Linked DNA regions of Homo sapiens. The protein of the gene in region 1 purifies or fractionates together with the protein of each later gene. This does not show direct contact. Each region holds a gene or a part of one and is shown on either strand. Other genes may lie near its edges. The genes, in order: ZFHX3, TGFBRAP1, CCS, BEND3 and ACBD3.

Region 1 (3,520 bases):
AACCTCTCGAGCTGTTTGAAAGGAAAGTAATTCTGATGAACGTGCTCTTGATGACTCTTTAAAATCAAGATGTTGGAAAACAACTTGCCGCAGGAGTCACACTCGAGCTTTTCCAGGTTCTCTCCCTGGTCAGTCTTCCCATTCTTTTTCTGCACCTTCTGCTTGTTCTCATTATACTGGATGACCAACTCAAAGCCAAAGTTCTCCAGCAGGGCCTTGGTGGCGTTCCCTCTGGCATCTGAAGCAATGCGTGGAGGGAGCATGGAAGGCTCAGAACCACCCCCTGGTGCCAACTCTTTCTTCTCTTTGGCCTTCAAGGCATCTGGCAGTGTTTCCTTCGGACCGGTGTTGCCCTCTCCCCCCTCGGCGCTGTCCCTCTCTCTCTGGCTTTCTTTTTCCTTTTCTTTGATGACCAATTTGTTCTTCTTTTCGGGGTGCTGGCTTGGCTGAAGGAGGGCAGAGTGACTCTGGGCTATAGAGAGTTGGTTCTGCTGCTGCTGCGGCAAGATCTGCTGATGGCTCTGCTGTGGGACCTGAACCTGAGCCTTCAGATCTTCCAGCAGGCCTGGGCCTGTCCCAGTCAGTGTCAGTGCCCCACTGGTCACTGGCAAGCTCACCTCGGGGTTAAGCTGGAACTCAGCACTGGGGATGTAGAAAGGGAAGAGGAGGTGCTGCTGCTGCTGTAGTTGCAGCAGGGTCTCAGTTGTCATGGGGAAGTGAGGAAGGAGGGTGGGGTTAAACAGCTGAGACTGGATCAGGGCAGCCTGTTGCTGCAGCTCCTGCTGCAGGTGAGCTTGAACTTGAGCCTGGGCCTGGGCCAGCGTTTGTGCTTGTTGTTGTTGTTGTTGTTGTTGTTGTTGCTGTTGCTGCTGCTGTTGTTGCTGCTGCCTGGATGCAATCATATCTGCCAGTTTCTTCCGATTGGCCTCTTTGGGCTCTGAAGGGGAAGCAATGTTGGCACCAATAGGATTCCCCAGGGGTGGCATCCCTACACTCTCAGTGGGCACTTGGCTTAGTAAGTTAGAGCTTGGAGCAATGCCAGCACTGCTTGGATTGGAGGTGGTAAAGGTGTTACTGCCACTGGTGCTCACAGGACTTGGCGTGGAGGAGCTCAAGGAAATACTGCTGCTGTTCCCAGTCCCATTGCTGCTGCCACTTGCAGCCTCCAGCTTGGCTGCCCGGGCCTTGGTTTGATGTAACACAGACCTCATATGGATCTCCAGAGTGGAACTCTGGCTGTAGGCCACATTACAAGTGTTACACTTAAAAGGTTTGTTGTCTGGGCTGCTGGTGGGTTCTGGCTGACCGGTTGCTGATTCTTGAAGGGCTCTCTTTAACTTATGCAGGTGGGAGACAGAATTGTAGTGTACTAGCAGGATATTCTTTTGAGTGAAAGATTCCTTGCAGACGGTACACTTGTAAGGGCGAGAAGGGTCTAGGAACTTTTCCATAGTAAAATTGGGACCTTTTCTGAAAGGCAGAGCTCTCTTTGGCTCTGAGCCCGAGTCTTCTTGTACTGACCCAGAGTCACTGCCCGTTGGGCTCTGTTTATCTTCCAAGTCACTCTCTTCCTCCTTGTCTTCCTCAACAATTATGGTATGGTCCTCTGCCAGAGTGGGGTCTCCCATTGCCAGGAGGTCCCCATTGGCCAGCAGGCCACCATAAAGCTGTTGGATGTCAGCCTCACTCAGCTCCAGGTGGCTTGTCTCAAGGTGCTTCTTCAGAGCCTGGAAAGTTCGGAAACTGCGCTGACAAAGACAGCACATGGTGGCAGCTCTGATCACATGGTACTGAGAATGGAGCTGCAACTTTTCAATGGTCTTGAAGGCCAGGCTACACTGATTACAGCGGTACTTGTACACATGGCGATCTGACACCGGCAGCTGAGGCCTCTTGGCATGCACTTCATTAAAATGCGTCTGAAGGGCAGCAGAAGTTTTGAAAACCTGGTTGCACCCCTTCTTCCAGCAGATGAAGCCTGAGTCTTCTCTCACAGAGCCTGGGTCAGCAGGGGATGGTTTCAAATCTCCGCTTTGCTCTGTGCTTGCGGATGGCAAGATGTTCTTTCCCAGATCCTCTGAGGTTTCTGTTAAAAAAAAAAAAAAAATCAAACCCAAAGATAAAGAAGGCTTTGTTTCAAGGATGGCACCCAGAGCGGTCTACCTAGTCAGGCCTCATGAACACAGAATCTGATGATGAGGGAAGTGCCCAACCTGAATGACAGAATCTCTGCGGAGCGCCTCCTGCTTTCTTTTGTTCCTCCAATAGAGCACATATTATAAACAGGGTGCACATGAACAGAGATGGATAAAAGGAAATACAAAAAGTTTCAATGCATAATAGACCCATGTCATATCACAGATCTAACAGTCTTTTAAATAGCATTTAATTGCTTGACTCAGAATCCTCAATTTCTCAAGAGCTGGTTTGAAGGTTACTGATCTTAGACTGGATTTCCCTTTTATGTTCATCTTTTATGTAATAAGCATTTAGCACAGTAGATCTGAAGTGTAGAATATGTGAATTAATGCTGTCCTAAGTTGTGAGGAATTTACAAGAACTGCTGAACATCGTAATATAAGAAATTTGGGGATACATATTTTTAGGCATTTAATTTCTTGTTATAATGTGACTTCTGATTGCCATCTCTATTCAATAAGCAATTAACATTCAAGTGTTCAATTATTTAAAATACATTTTTTTCCCTACAATGAGATCATCACACTCATAAATACCGAGACCCTTTAACAGGTCATTTGTCCATTGTCTAATATGGAAAACTCACAAGAAAGAGAGAAGGCAGGACAGTAGTGTGGCCAAACTCTTCCCAACTTAGAACTCTTCCCACCTTAGAGGTGAACGATGTAGGACAGCCTCACAGAGGTCTAACCATTCATCTAGCCAGGAAACACTATGTGGCACCAACTACTGTCTACAACAATGTTCTTTCCATCAGCATCTCTGTGCTTCATCCTAAGCCAATCCCAAAAAACTCAGAACGAAAGACAACTAATCCAGTGTACCTAAAAATCAACCCACAAGTCCCTACTAATTAAGTCCTCAGAAATACAGTGTTTAATGGCTTAGAATGGTAGGGCCTACTGACTGAGTCTCTGGTTATTCACTCCCTAATTGTATAGTTTAAGAAGATGTGTGTGTCTGTGCCAGAATTCCACTGGTTCTCATACTAATTTTCTCTCACTTTAAACCATGTGAGTAATATACAAATACATGCCAAGAAGCAGAGTATAAAGTAGCTGATGACAGTGCCCCTCATCTCCTGATCAGTTACATTCACCTTAAGAGTATTGTAAAGAATTCCTGAAAACCTTTCTCCATGAACATTTTGGCATTCCATCTTGTTTCAATTTCTTGGGGTCAAGAATAATGATACTGACCAGGCTGCTTTCCTGCCTCTTCCAAATTGGAATTCCCATCTCGATCTGGAACAGCTGCTGGGAGGAACATGCTGCTTGGCATCACCATCTCAGGGGTGGTCACCTGAGGAGCAAGAGCAAGG
Region 2 (3,520 bases), on another chromosome or scaffold:
CTCAGCTCACTGTAACCTCCGCCCAAGTGATTCTCCTGCCTCAGCCTCCTGAGTAGCTGGGATTACAGGTGCCCACCACCACACCAGGCTAATTTTTGTATTTTTAGTAGAGATAGGGTTTCACCTTTTGGCCAGGCTGGTCTCGAACTACTGACCTCAGGTGATCTGCCTGCTTCGGCATCCCAAAGTGCTGGGATTACAGGCGTGAGCCACCTAGCCCAGCCTCAACAACTTTTTAGAATGAGGAGCAAAAACAATCAAATGACAACCCACTCTTGTGGGAAAATCTTACCAGGAACCCTTACGGAGTTTTCTGGTTTTTTGTTTTTTGTTTTTTGTTTTTTTTTTTTTGAGACAGTTTCCCTCTTGCTGCCCAGGCTGGAGTGCAATGGCGTGATCTCAGCTCACCGCAACTGCTGCCTCCTGGGTTCAAGCAATTCTCCTGCCTCAGCTTCCTGAGTAGCTGGGATTACAGGCATGCACCACCATGCCCGGCTAATTTTGTATTTTTAGTAGAGACAGGGTTTCTCCATGTTGGTCAGGATGGTCTCGAACTCCCCACCACAGGTGATCCACCTGCTTTGGCCTCCCAAAGTGCTGGGATTATAGGCGTGAGCCACTGCGCCCAGCCCAGAGTTATTTTTGTAGTTATTTACTTAAAAGAATTTTCCCACTGTTAAGAGTGGGTAGATAGCTAGCTAGACATGAATGGGAGGGAAGAGCCCCTGAGAAAAGGGAGGTCTGGAAAATCCCACATCCCAGAGACCATCAAAAAGATGCATGCTGGCCAGGCATGGTGGCTGATGCTTGTAATCCCAGCACTTTGGGAGGCCGAGGTGGGTGGATCCCTTGAGGTCAGGAGTTCAAGACCAACCTGGCCAACATGGTGAAACCCCATCTCTACCAAAAATACAAAAATTAGCCAGGCATGGTGGTGCATGCCTGAAATCTCAGCTATTTGGAAGGTTGAGGCAGGGAGAATCGCTTGAACCTGGGAGGTAGAGGTTGCAGTGAGCCGATACTGTGCCACTGCACTCCAGCCTGGGCAATAAAGCGAGACTCTGTCTCAAAACAAAACAAACAAACAAAACATGCATGCTAGATATGAGCAGAGAGGAGGGAAAGAGGGTAAAGGAGAAATTCCAAAGAGACATTCAGGTGCAGTAAGTATGGACCTAACCGCTGTACAACCTTCCTGGGGTGGAGGTAATGAGCAATGCAGCCATTAGGTGGGATTCACATCCAACACCGGCTGTACATGTGCACCAACTACTAGTAAGAGAGGGTCCCACAAGCTTAGAGTAGAAATTAGGTGGGAGGAAAAGGTGGGGACTTAAGGCAGAAGCGGGAAAACTAGACAAAGGAAAAAGGCAGAAACTTTAAGACAGAGGTGGGAACTTCAAGAAAAACTCCAGCATCATAAAAACCCGATGCAGAACTCTCAGGGCTGCTGGCTCACTCTCTCAGCATCCCACTCTGCCTCATCTTTCAGAACGTACTGTCTCTCTCCATATAAATTCTCTGTTCTCTATTTCCCTTCAGAAAGCTCTCTGCTATCTCTGAATTGTCTCTTGGCCAAAATCTTTCTCCCAAGATGACTAAGGGCTGAGAATATCCCCACTTCCCGGTAACACCACCAGAGCTGTCTTCAAGCTCCACTTTAATGTGAAAGAAACTGGTTTTATGACTCCAACCCCACGTTCACAGAACAATCGAACTGGATTTCATCAAGCACTGGTCAAGCACTGCTACCTCTGTCTTGCCACACACGCCCAATGTCACTGAGGATTTATTCTGCACAGCGCCAATCTCACTCTCCAGTTTCAACACGCAGTCACCGAGGCCACCCAAAAAGATCAGGCGCACAAATGCATCCTCCTCACCCAGCCCTCCGGGGCCCGCCAGCAGGAACTCCTGTCTCCCTATCCTCTTGACGATCGGCGGCCTCTCCTCACTGCAGTAGGGAAACAGGTCCTGGGAGACGCCTGTGCTGTAATTGTGGATGATGTACTGAGTGGTCAGAGCCAGACACAGGAAGTGGCCGTCCACAGCCACAGCGAGGGGCTGCTCGGCAGTCGACACCTCCTTGACGATCTGCACCCGGTCCTCGTACACCAGAAACATCTGGATGGTTCTGCGTTTGACAGAGATGATGCAAACTTCTACACAGAAGGGGTCCCCACTCACAGGGTTCTCGTTCAGTGCAAACGTGGCTGCCCCCTTGATGCGGGCCCCCGAAGGCACTGGCTCGAGGTTCAGCATGTTGACCAGGCTGATGGAGTTGTCACACAGCACCAGCAGCCTGTTGAGTGCTGAGGCCGCACGCAGCTCGTTCACGGGCTTCTTGAAGCCCAAGTGTCTCTGCAGCTGTTTGGTGGCAGTGAACGTGGCTGGCCCAGCAGGCACTGGCCTCTCCTCCAACAGGAAGTGGTAGACGAAGCAGTCGTTGGTGCCCACGTAGAGGTCCCTGCCGCAGCACTCCACGCACTCTATGTTGACGCGCTCCTTGTCGCCCATCAGCAGCTCCCGCTCCACAGCAGAGACAAGCGTAAAGGCTTTGATGCTCATCATGTCTACTGGCTGATCTGCTGGAAGAGAAAGAGGAAAACTAATTTTAGAGGAACAAGGAAGAAGCAGAAACAGAGGCTGCAATAATGATACGTGGATTCCCTAGTTGTCATTTTCATTAAAGAAAGTCATTCCACGCTATCAAAAAATGGAAAGAAACCATTTCCCCACAGACCTCCCCCATCAGACAGCAGAAGACCCAAGAAGAAAACCACAGACACATACACACACACACACCCATATACACATATGTATGTGCTTGTGATCACGTGCCATCCTGCTCAGTCCCCACACAGAGTCACCTGGAGCCTCCTCACATTGCTCCTGGGAGACACGCTTGAAGGCAGAAGACAAATGCATGCATTCACCCACGGGCAACATAACAAAAGGATTTCTGTGAGGCAGGAGGATGGCTTGACCCCAGGAGCTGGAGGCCAGCCTGGGCAATATAATGAGACCCCATTTAAAAAAAAAAACAAAAAGGATTTCTGAAAAAGGCAGAAATGATCCTCACTGATCTTCCCTGAGTTTCTACAGCTACTTGAATATGCACTTTAGTCAATGAACACAACCACAGTCACAGGATCCTGCCAGGAACACCGAGGCAGACGCCAGGCCTTGGATTCCTTTGTGTTCTTCCCAATAAGGCAGGCGCATCAGCCTCAGCTCCGGAGTAAATGTATTCATGTGGAGAGTAAAGGTGTGCCTCGGATCTCGAAAGGCTTTCAGATGGTGAGTGGAGCTATTTAGTGGATGTGTGGACCGACCGGTCCCTGGCTCCCATTGGAAGTGAGACTTTCCCACACACTAGCCCGTCGCCTCCTACTTCATCTTCTGCAGAGAACTGTGGCTTCACACTCCACAAAGTCACAGGGAGAAGATCAGGCAAGGTGGCCTTTCTGACTTCTCAGGCAGCCAGAAGCAAACTCAAAGGCACAGTCCCTGTGAGCGG
Region 3 (3,520 bases), on another chromosome or scaffold:
ATTGGTGAGGGCCCAGTGTGAAAATGTGTAGCTGAGAATGCTACTGGGGAGACTTCAGACAACTCACCTGTTGCAGTTGTTTGTAAGGTCCCCGTACTGATGGACGTGGAGTCCATGCAGCCCAGGCTCCAGGCCGTCAATAGTTCCCTCGATGAGGCAGCGCTCAGGGGTCAGCTGTAGGAAGCGCACCACCCCCTGCACGGTGCCAGGCCCCCCCAGGATGGCCACTGCTGCCCCCAGATTCTCTGCAAGGTATTAGACACTTGGGCTGGCTTGCCACCTCACCCAGCACACCTCTTCAGCAGCTCGGGAAGGGCAGGGAGTCTCACATAATTTTCACACCTTCCTCAAAGCCACTCCAACCCAGAGCCTGAGAATCCTATGATTAGATTTGTACCAGCTCTGAGCCACCTCCCTCCGAGAGGGGCCAAGGCCACAGTGGTCACTCACGCAACTGGCCGCTGCCCATGCCCTTGAGTACCGCCTGCCGCCCCGTGCCTTCCAGGAGAGCCTGCACCTCCTGGCTGGGTAGAGTGGTGTGTACCAAGACCATCTGGTCCTCCAAGTGCACCTCCACATCCTGGACACCTGGCAAGAAAGAGAGGGAAGAGGGCAACAGAGGCTGGCACCCAGTGCTGGCAGCAGGGAACAGAAAAACAGACAGCAATTCTCCATCCCCATTTCCACCAAACTTCCCATGGTCAGAGGCAAGCTACTTCGTAACTGTGTAACCCTGAGTAAGCCTCTTCACTTCTGAGTCTGTCTCTTTTCATATAAATGGGGATAATGCCACCTTGCCCCCAGGATTTCTGTGAGTTCTAATACACGCCAGGCATTATTTATAACTTTGGAAACATACATCATTCTTTTTAAAGCAGTGTTTTGTTTTTTTTTTAAGTGGGCTATCCATAGTGGCATTATTCACAATAGCCAAAAGATAAAAATAACCCAAATGCCCATCAACTAATGAACAGATAAAATGTGGTATCCATACAATGAAATACTATTCAGGAACGAAGTGCTGATACATGCTACAACATGGACGGACCTTGAAACATTATGCTACAAGAAAGCCAGTCACAAAGCCACATATATAATGCCATGTATATTAGATATCTAGAATAGGCAAATCCACAAACAGAAAATATTCTTCCTGTAGGAGATAGCTTAAAAAATATTTTTTTTTTTTTGAAACAGAGTCTCTCTCTGTTGCTCAGGCTGGAGTGCAGTGGCACGATCTCAGCTCACTGAAACCTCCATCTCCCGGGTTCAAGCGATTCTCCTGCCTTAGCCTCCCGAGTAGCAGGGACTACAGGCACACACCACCACCATGCCCAGCTAATTTTTTTGTATTTTTTTCTTTTAGTAGACATGGGGTTTCACCATGTTGGCCAGGCTGCTCTCGAACTCCTGACCTCAGGTCATCTGCCTGCCTCAGTCTCCCAAAGTACTGAGATTACAGGCATGAGCCATCACGCCTGGCTGTGGCCTAGGATTTCTTTATGAAGTGATAAAAATGTAAAACTGACAGTGGAGAGATGGTTGTACAACTCTGAAAATACTACAAACAGATGAACTGTATCCTTTAAATGGGTGAATTTTTTTTCTTTTTTTTTTTTTGAGACAGAGTCTCGCTGTGTCACCCAGGCTGGAGTGTAATGGCACAATCTCGGCTCACTGCAACCTCAGCCTCCCAAACTGTTGGGACTACAGGCGTGAGCCACTGCGCCTGGCCTAAATGGGTGATTTTTATAGTACATGAATTATATCTTTTTTTATTTTCAAGATGGAGTCTCGCTTTGTCACCTAGGCTGGAGAGCAGTGGCATAATCTTGGCTCACTGCAACCTCTGCCTCCTGGGTTCAAGCAAGCCTCCCAAAGTGCTGGAATTACAGGCGTGAGCCACTGTGCCTAGCTGCCCAGCCTATGAATTATATCTTTTTTTTTTTTTTGAGACAGAGTCTCACTCTGTCGCCCAGGCTGGAGTGCAGTGGCGCCATCTGGGCTCACTGCAAGCTTCACCTCCTGGGTTCACGCCATTCTCCTGCCTCAGCCTCCCGAGTAGCAGGGACTACAGGCGCCCGCCACCAAGCCCGGCTAATTTTTTGTATTTTTAGTAAAGACGGGGTTTCACCGTGTTAGCCAGGATGGTCTCAATCTCCTGACCTCGTGATCTGCCCGCCTTGGCCTCCCAAAGTGCTGGGAATACAGGCATGAGCCACCACACCTGGCCTTTTTTTCTTTTTGAAATGGAGTCTCGCTCTGTCACCCAGGCTGGAGTGCAGTGGCACAATCTCGGCTCACTGCAAGCTCCACCTCCTGGGTTCTAGCCATTCTCCTGCCTCAGCCTCCCGAGTAGCTGGGACAACAGGTGCCCGCCATCACGCCCAGCTGATTTTTTGTGTTTTTAGTAGAGACAGGGTTTCACCGTGTTAGCCAGAATGGTCTCGATCTCCTCACCTCATGATCTGCCTGCCTCAGCCTCCCAAAGTGCTGGAATTACAGGTGTGAGCCACTGCGCCCAGCCGAATTATATCTTAATAAAGCTATTACACACATAAAAGGCAGGGACTATTGCCATCATTAGTAGAGCTAACACTTACTGGGCATGGACGGTGAGCGAATCCTGTGTTTTACCTGTCTTAACATATTTGGTACTCCTACTAAGCCTCTAAGTTAGGTACAATGATCCCCATTTTACAGATGAGAAAACTGAGGCACAGAAAGATGAAGAAACTTGCTCAAAGTCGCACTGTAGTAAGTTGTGCAACTGGACCTCTGACCATGCAGCCTAGCTCCAGAGCCCCAGCACTTAACCCAGATATTGTACTCACCCTAGGAAGCAGCCCTTAGGCTCCAAGCTGGGTTAGGACCACACCCCTTGTGGTCCTGTAGCAGCTCACACTCCCCCTCCTGTAATTCACATTGCACTGACTACAATCCTGTTTCACTCCTAGGCCGCCAGCTCTGTGAGGGCAGGAGCTCTGTGAGGTCCACAAGGGTCAAGTTCAAAAGTCAGTTGTCGGCCGGGCGCGGTGGCTCATGCCTGTAATCCCAGCACTTTGGGAGGCCAAGGTGGGTGGATCACAAGGTCAGGAGATCGAGACCATCCTGGCTAACACGGTGAAACCCCATCTCTACTAAAAATACTAAAAAGTTAGCCGGGCATGGTGGCGGGCGCCTGTAGTCCCAGCTACTCAGGAGGCTGAAGCAGGAGAATGGCATGAACCCGGGAGGCGGAGCTTGCAGTGAGCCGAGATTGCGCCACTGCACTCCAGCCTGGGCAACAGAGCGAGATTCCGTCTCAAAAAAAAAAAAAAAAAGTCAGTTGTCAGATGGCCAGGCGTGGTGGCGCACACCCATAATCCCAGCACTTTGGGAGGTTGAGGCAGGTGGATCACATGAGGCCAGGAGTTCGATACTAGCCTTGCCAACATGGCAAAACTCCATCTTTAGTAAAAGTATGAAAATTAGCCAGGCATGGTGGTGCACACCTGTAATCCCAGCTACTCAGGAGGCT
Region 4 (2,937 bases), on another chromosome or scaffold:
GTGTGGGCCTGTAGTCCCAGCTACTTAGGAGTCTGTGGCAGGAAGATCACTTGAGCCCAGGAAGTCGAGGCTGCAGTGAGCCATGATTATACCACTGCACTCTAGCAGGGTTGGGGCGGCGGGAAACTAAAACCCATTTGATCCAAAGTGAAAAAAAAAAAGGCGGTTAAATGAAAATGAAACTCTGCTGGCTTTGCAGGACTGGCCTGGCACCTGACCAGGAAAGGTTAAAAAAGGTCAAACAAGCCTCCCACTACATGGCCAGGAAGTGGTTTGTGGAGAAATGGTTTGGAGGATTTATCTGGCAATTTCTCATTCATTCAGCTGTGGCCAAACTGAAATCCTATGAGCTGTACCCCTGACACGTAGAGTATGGAAGCCCCAGAAGCTGAAATCCCCCGGAATATTCACGTTCTTCCCTGGGAGGTGGGTGAGGAGGCCACGCACAAAGACAAATAGACCAAGACATATTCTGAGAGACCAGTGCTCTAAGAAAATAACATGTTACGAGACCATGTTTTTCTATTTTTATAACATTTTATATAACTCATAAAACAGTGTTTGTATAAAAATTCACACAAAGTTGCTAGAGAGCATACAATTTCCAAAAATGTCCTGGGTTTTTGTTACATTCAGTTTCCTAAGGATGCACTCCAATCTATGGTAAAATGCAGACATGATGCGAGATTTCATTATCTTTGGTAAAACTATTCTCATTATTTTGTCTCCTCACAGTATTAAGTCTGATATCCACTTTGTGCAGGGTCTGCTATTACTAGGATGTCAGAAAAACATTAAGGCTGGATCTACGAGAGGCAAGTATTTCCCAACAGCAGTAATAGCCCCTTGGCCCTCACCCCCACTTCATGTATCTATACAGTCGATCTACACAGCCAGGCGGGGTGCAAGCTCACGACCTCCACTCGGGAGTCTCGAGATCCCCTCTTGACTGGGAAAGAAGCAAACATTTGTGGGGAACGTTGGAAACGGAGGCCATCTCTAAATGAACCCAGTGGTCATGCTGTGGTGTGGTCAGACCAGCAACTTTTACCAATTAAATAGCCAATCTATTCACCACTAAGTAGATCCCATTGGTTGGTTGGTTGATGATTGCTGCTGATGTGGTTCCCCACTCCCCACAAACATAAAAGGAAAGGAAGGTTTGGAGCCAACACCGAAAGGGGAGGGGCACGCTAGCGCAAATGACACCAGACACGACTTTATTCCCTGTCAAACATTTGTTGTCCTGTAGACACAGCCAAGGTGAACTGAAGGGGGATGCGAACACTCAGTACATTCGTGACTATCTTCATACATTCTTTAAAAACTTACAGAGAAATCAATGAAGACTACCACCTACTGTGACTTACTAGTTCATTCAACATCAAAACGTGTCTGTGCTAATCTTTTAGTCCTTGGGATACAAGGCCAAAAAAAAAAAAAAAAAAATCCAAAAAACAAACAACTAAAAACCAAAGAATTTAGATGTGGGGGAAGGAAAGCGACTGCCAACAGGTTTCATGGAACACATTAAATTTTGAAAAAATAAGTATTTTGTACTTCTATTGCTTCATGTAAAAAATTTAAAATAAAAAAATGCCCACTGGAGCCACCTGTATGGATGGAGAAGTGAGGACACCATACAGACAGGGCAAGGACCTGCAGGCGTTTCCTGACGACAGTCCAGAGATGGTGAGAGTTCCCACGTGTGTCCACTTCTCTTCACAGAAAGGGACTGTAAGATTCTGGGGGAAGATGCCCTACACATGTAAGGTATTAAGAAAATCACTGAAATACGGTTTCCAAAAATTGAACATGCTCTGGGTTACAAAGAGACATATTTAATTCCTAGAACCTGTTGATTTCTCTAACAGGGGTAGATGGGAGTTTCAAAAAAATTATTAATAAATGATTGTGCTTCTAAAGTTGCAGGGTCAACATTCCACCCTCTAGAAAGCAGGGCAATTCATGGCTTGGAGTCCTCGTTTACATCCTAGAAACCAGAACAAATTCCATGGGACCTCCCGCCTCCAGCCCCCAACAACCAGCGGTGGGAAGGGGGAGGTGGTGGGAGAGGGCCACAGCTGTCTTTGGGTAGGGTGCGTGTGTGTGCATGCTGTGTGCATGTGCTGGAGAGACTAAGGCATAGAGAAGGGCCCAAGCGAGGGGGGAAAGTGAGTCTCCTGGCTGCTCCAGTCCCTCCTTTCCAGGCACAAAGAAGTTGAACTTGTTATTCGTGTAGGCCCCCTTCATCTCACTTCAGCTTTTAGTAAGCAGTGCGTGTGTGCATGAGTAGCTGTGTAAGACAGAGAGTCATTCAGTCCCTGTGCCTTTCTAAATCTGTTTGCAGTTTCAACAGAAATAATCTGTAAATGACACTTAGGAGCAAATTTACTAGTTAGATCAGCAACTTAACATTGCTTTTAAAATCCTGTATTTTAAAAAATGCTCCTGGGTACAGGCAAAATTATGTCATACAGCCACTGGAACTGAAGTTCTTATCAGCTGAATGAAGAAAATCCAGATTGTTTCTGTTATCTCTGCATTTTAAAGTAGCAAAATATTAAGCCATCCCACAGGGGTTCTATGACTACCCTGTGTGATTCAATAAATTTTCCAGGACTCTGGTATGACACACTGTTTGCATTCGACTGTTTCCTTTCCCTCTTAAGCATTTGGCCCCCAGAGTTAGGTAGGTAAAAGTATCATTTTAAAGGACTTTACCTGTCAGGGGATTTCCCAGTTGGTGCTCCTGGAGAGCATGCAGCTGGCCTGCAGGAGCCTGACATTCCCAGTCGGGAGGGAACGAAGACATGTGCCCCCCAAGGCAGGGGGTGGCCAGGTATAGGACAGCAGGACCTTCTAGAGAGTCCAAGAGGAAAGTTCTGAGTGGACCCTGGGAAGGGACATGTGTACCCCATCTAAAATGGCCTGTGT
Region 5 (3,520 bases), on another chromosome or scaffold:
GTTGTTAATCACTTATAGGAGTTAGAGGGGAGAAAGGTGAGGTAGCCCAGACAATTCTCGTGGTAGGTTTATGAAATAGTGTCTTATCTGATACTCCTTAGAAATCTTCCCTTTCATCCTGTCTGCAGGCTCCCTGAACACCATACCACTCTCAGACCCGGAAGATGTCCATTCCTAGCACAATAGGATCTGTTCTTTTTGGAAGGGTCTTGTGGGGTGGGTGAAAGCTGGGCAAGGGCTGCCCTGAGAGGTTAACCGTTCTTTTTTAAATTAAAAGCTTTACAAAAAATTTTAATTTCAGAAATAATACACAAATATATGCAATATAAAATTTTCATTTATGGCAGTATATGAAACACAAACTGAAAAAAATCTTTTTTCCCACATTTCTTTTAATTCCACTCTCCTCTGCATAGATAATAACTGATAAATTTAGGGTATGTCCTTCCAGATCTTTTCCTTTGTATTCACCTTTTTTTTTTTCATTAAGCAAGTGTATTACATGTCTTTACATATTAGGCAATGTATTTCTATCCTTTGGCTCTGCGATATTTCAGGGTGGATTTTTTACTTCTGTACACGTTTGTCGAGTGCTTGTTCTTTCCAGCACTGTGCTAAGCCCTGAGGATGTCGTGGTGTGAGATAGGCAGTCTCTTCCCCTATGGAGCATCTAGTTTAATGGGTAATGCAGATCTATTGCTGAATGTATCACACAAATTTAATTATAATGACAGCAGGTATTATGAAGGAAAAGCTTTTAGTGCTGTGAGCATATATTAGAGGGGATCCTTCAGGGTATAGGAATATCATAATGACTTAAGTAGTTTCTTATGATGGACACATTTCTGTTGCTGTGCAACAATAATTATTCTTGATGTGATTTGTATATTGTGCGATTGATTCCCTATAAGTTTCTGCTAGTAAAGTGTATGTATTTTAAATTTTGATGTATATATCCACATTGTTCTCTAAAAAGGTCATGTCAGTTTTCCCTGGGAGCTAAAGTTTTATTTTTAAACAGGATTCAACGTATAGGGTTCATTCTCTATCTTTGCCTTGTAGGAAGGAGGAAGAGGAGCGAAGGCGGCGTGAAGAGGAAGAAAGAGAACGTCTGCAAAAGGAGGAAGAGAAACGTAGGAGAGAAGAAGAGGAAAGGCTTCGACGGGAGGAAGAGGAAAGGAGACGGATAGAAGAAGAAAGGCTTCGGTTGGAGCAGCAAAAGTAAGTTTATTATGTGGCTTATGTTTTAAAATGAGAAATGGAAAAAAAATAGAATAAAAATAAGAAATGAGCGGGCCAGGTGTGGTGGTTCACGCCTGTAATCCCAGCACTTTGGGAGGCGGAGGCGGGCAGATCACCTGAGGTTGGGAGATCACCTGAGGTTGGGAGATGGAGACTATCCTGGCTAACACAGTGAAACCCTGTTTCTATTAAAAATACAAAAAATTAGCTGGGCGCAGTGGCATATGCCTGTAATCCCACCTACTCAGGAGGCTGAGGCAGGAGAATCTCTTGAACCCAGGAGGTGGAGGTTGCAGTGAGCCGAGATCGCGCCATTGCACTCCAGCCTGGGTAATGAGTGAAACTCCGTCTCAAAAAAAAAAAGGAATGTATTAGAAGGTTTGGGGGTTCACTTGCAGAACCCAGAGATTGGAAGCAGGAGCTGAGGTTGCTTGGTTGCGCTCTCTGTTTCTTGTCTCTGCTTCTCTCAGCTTATGTCTCTGCTTCATCCTTGCTCTCTGCAAATTGTCAACTGTCTGCTTTGGCATATGCAAGGCTGTCCGAGGATTTATTTGGTCTATGTTTCCATGCATCTGACAGAGACTGGCTGGAATCTGTGAGACCCAGTTGCAGTTTCCCAGGACAGAGAATCTTGTTGGTCCAGTCTATGTCAGATATCCATTTATAGTCCTTAGTACAAGATTTGGAGGCTTCAACTATTGCTTACTCAGTAAGGGCTTTGAGACTCAGAGACTGACAGGTTCTTCAAGAGGGAGCTGTGGGTACAAGGAGGCAGTGATTAACACCCATAAAACACTGGGAAGTAAGTCTGAGTTTGTAGGGGTGGCATGGCTTGTAGGTTAAACCAGAGAACATGAGAGTCCATTGATTTCTTCTCATTATTTCTGGGTAGTTCCTCAGAAAAAGGTTTAGTGCTAGCCTCAAACTAATCCAGGCCCTCATTCAACTTTGGAGAAAGACTATGAATGCAGCTCTTTTTTGGGGGAGGTTGTCCTAGGTGGATCGAATGTTGTGCTGTATGTAGGAGTTTGTGAGGCTTTGCTTTGTTATCTATTAATAGATGGCTTTGAGGTCTCTGTTAAGTTGGTCACATAAGTAAGTTAAGAAGCATGTGGTTGCTGGCTGTGGTGGCTCATGCCTGTAATCCCAGCACTTTGGGAGGCCGAGGCGGGCGGATCACTTGATTGAGGTCAGGGGTTTGAAACGAGCCTGGCCAACATGGTGAAACCGTCTTTACTAAAAATATAAAGATTAGCCAGGCGTGGTAGCAGGTGCCTGTAATCCCAGCTACTTGGGAGGCTGAGGCAGGAGAATCGCTTGAACCTAGGAAGTGGAGGTTGCAGTGAGCTGAGATCACGCCACTGCACTCCAGCATGGGTGACAGAGTGAAACTCCGTCTCAAAAAAAAAAAAAAGAAGAAGCATGTGGTTTATCTATAAAAGAATATGAGTATCTCTAAACTAAGCATGCCAAGATATTTTCAGTATTTCCTCTATTAAGACAGGCTTTAAATTAAATGCTGTGGACCCTTAATTTTTCACTGGCTTTATTTATACTTACCAGGGCCACCTGTAACATCTTCCAGCTATTCTTCTGCCTCTTACTGTTTTTTATGTATTTAGGTACAGAAGCCATAGCCAACAGTTAAATACCTCATCTATGTCAGAGATGACAATCCATCATCTTAAAGCATCGTGGTAAATTAGTGTAGCTCTAGAGCCAAACTGCCTGGATTTGCATCAGGCTGTAGCATCTGCTAGCAGTATAGTCTTGGGCAAGTTACTGAACCCTCTGTCAGAGGGTTGTTGTGAGGACTAAATGGGTTAGTATGTGTGAGTACTTTCAACACTGCATGGCACATAGTAAGGGCACAATAAATGTTAATAATTATGATGGTGGTCATGATGATGATGATCATATGCTTATCTTCCATCCCGAATTTTCCTGGAAAATCCTAAGTAAAAAATTAGAGGCCAGGCTTATTTTCTTAAATCTTTCTTCTGGACCCAGAACACATACTAATTGGTGTACATTACTAGCTTAGTTGTTTTTAAGAGTTACAGACTGTAAAAGTAAGTAATAAGGACATTTTATTTTGTCATGAACAATCTCCTGTAGCCAGACTAGTATATATATTTTTAATGTTTTTAGGCAGCAGATAATGGCAGCTTTAAACTCCCAGACTGCCGTGCAGTTCCAGCAGTATGCAGCCCAACAGTATCCAGGGAACTACGAACAGCAGCAAATTCTCATCCGCCAGTTGCAGGAGCAACACTAT

The links.
Region 2: the proteins of ZFHX3 (region 1) and TGFBRAP1 purify together in Homo sapiens (affinity purification with mass spectrometry; one large-scale study listed by BioGRID and IntAct). This does not show direct contact.
Region 3: the proteins of ZFHX3 (region 1) and CCS purify together in Homo sapiens (affinity purification with mass spectrometry; one large-scale study listed by BioGRID and IntAct). This does not show direct contact.
Region 4: the proteins of ZFHX3 (region 1) and BEND3 purify together in Homo sapiens (affinity purification with mass spectrometry; one large-scale study listed by BioGRID and IntAct). This does not show direct contact.
Region 5: the proteins of ZFHX3 (region 1) and ACBD3 purify together in Homo sapiens (affinity purification with mass spectrometry; one large-scale study listed by BioGRID and IntAct). This does not show direct contact.

What each region holds. Positions count from the first base shown.
Region 1 is NC_000016.10:72,796,629-72,800,148, forward strand, and holds part of ZFHX3 (zinc finger homeobox protein 3), read right to left. Parts: intron 3,502-3,520; coding exon 3,399-3,501; intron 2,087-3,398; coding exon 1-2,086.
Region 2 is NC_000002.12:105,305,731-105,309,250, forward strand, and holds part of TGFBRAP1 (transforming growth factor-beta receptor-associated protein 1), read right to left. Parts: intron 2,589-3,520; 5' UTR 2,572-2,588; coding exon 1,884-2,571; intron 1-1,883. UniProt on the Homo sapiens protein: Plays a role in the TGF-beta/activin signaling pathway. It associates with inactive heteromeric TGF-beta and activin receptor complexes, mainly through the type II receptor, and is released upon activation of signaling.
Region 3 is NC_000011.10:66,596,184-66,599,703, reverse strand, and holds part of CCS (copper chaperone for superoxide dismutase), read right to left. Parts: intron 589-3,520; coding exon 451-588; intron 246-450; coding exon 68-245; intron 1-67. UniProt on the Homo sapiens protein: Delivers copper to copper zinc superoxide dismutase (SOD1).
Region 4 is NC_000006.12:107,064,665-107,067,601, forward strand, and holds the end of BEND3 (BEN domain-containing protein 3), read right to left. Parts: 3' UTR 518-2,937; downstream 1-517. UniProt on the Homo sapiens protein: Transcriptional repressor which associates with the NoRC (nucleolar remodeling complex) complex and plays a key role in repressing rDNA transcription.
Region 5 is NC_000001.11:226,159,232-226,162,751, reverse strand, and holds part of ACBD3 (Golgi resident protein GCP60), read left to right. Parts: intron 1-1,062; coding exon 1,063-1,221; intron 1,222-3,393; coding exon 3,394-3,520. UniProt on the Homo sapiens protein: Involved in the maintenance of Golgi structure by interacting with giantin, affecting protein transport between the endoplasmic reticulum and Golgi. Involved in hormone-induced steroid biosynthesis in testicular Leydig cells.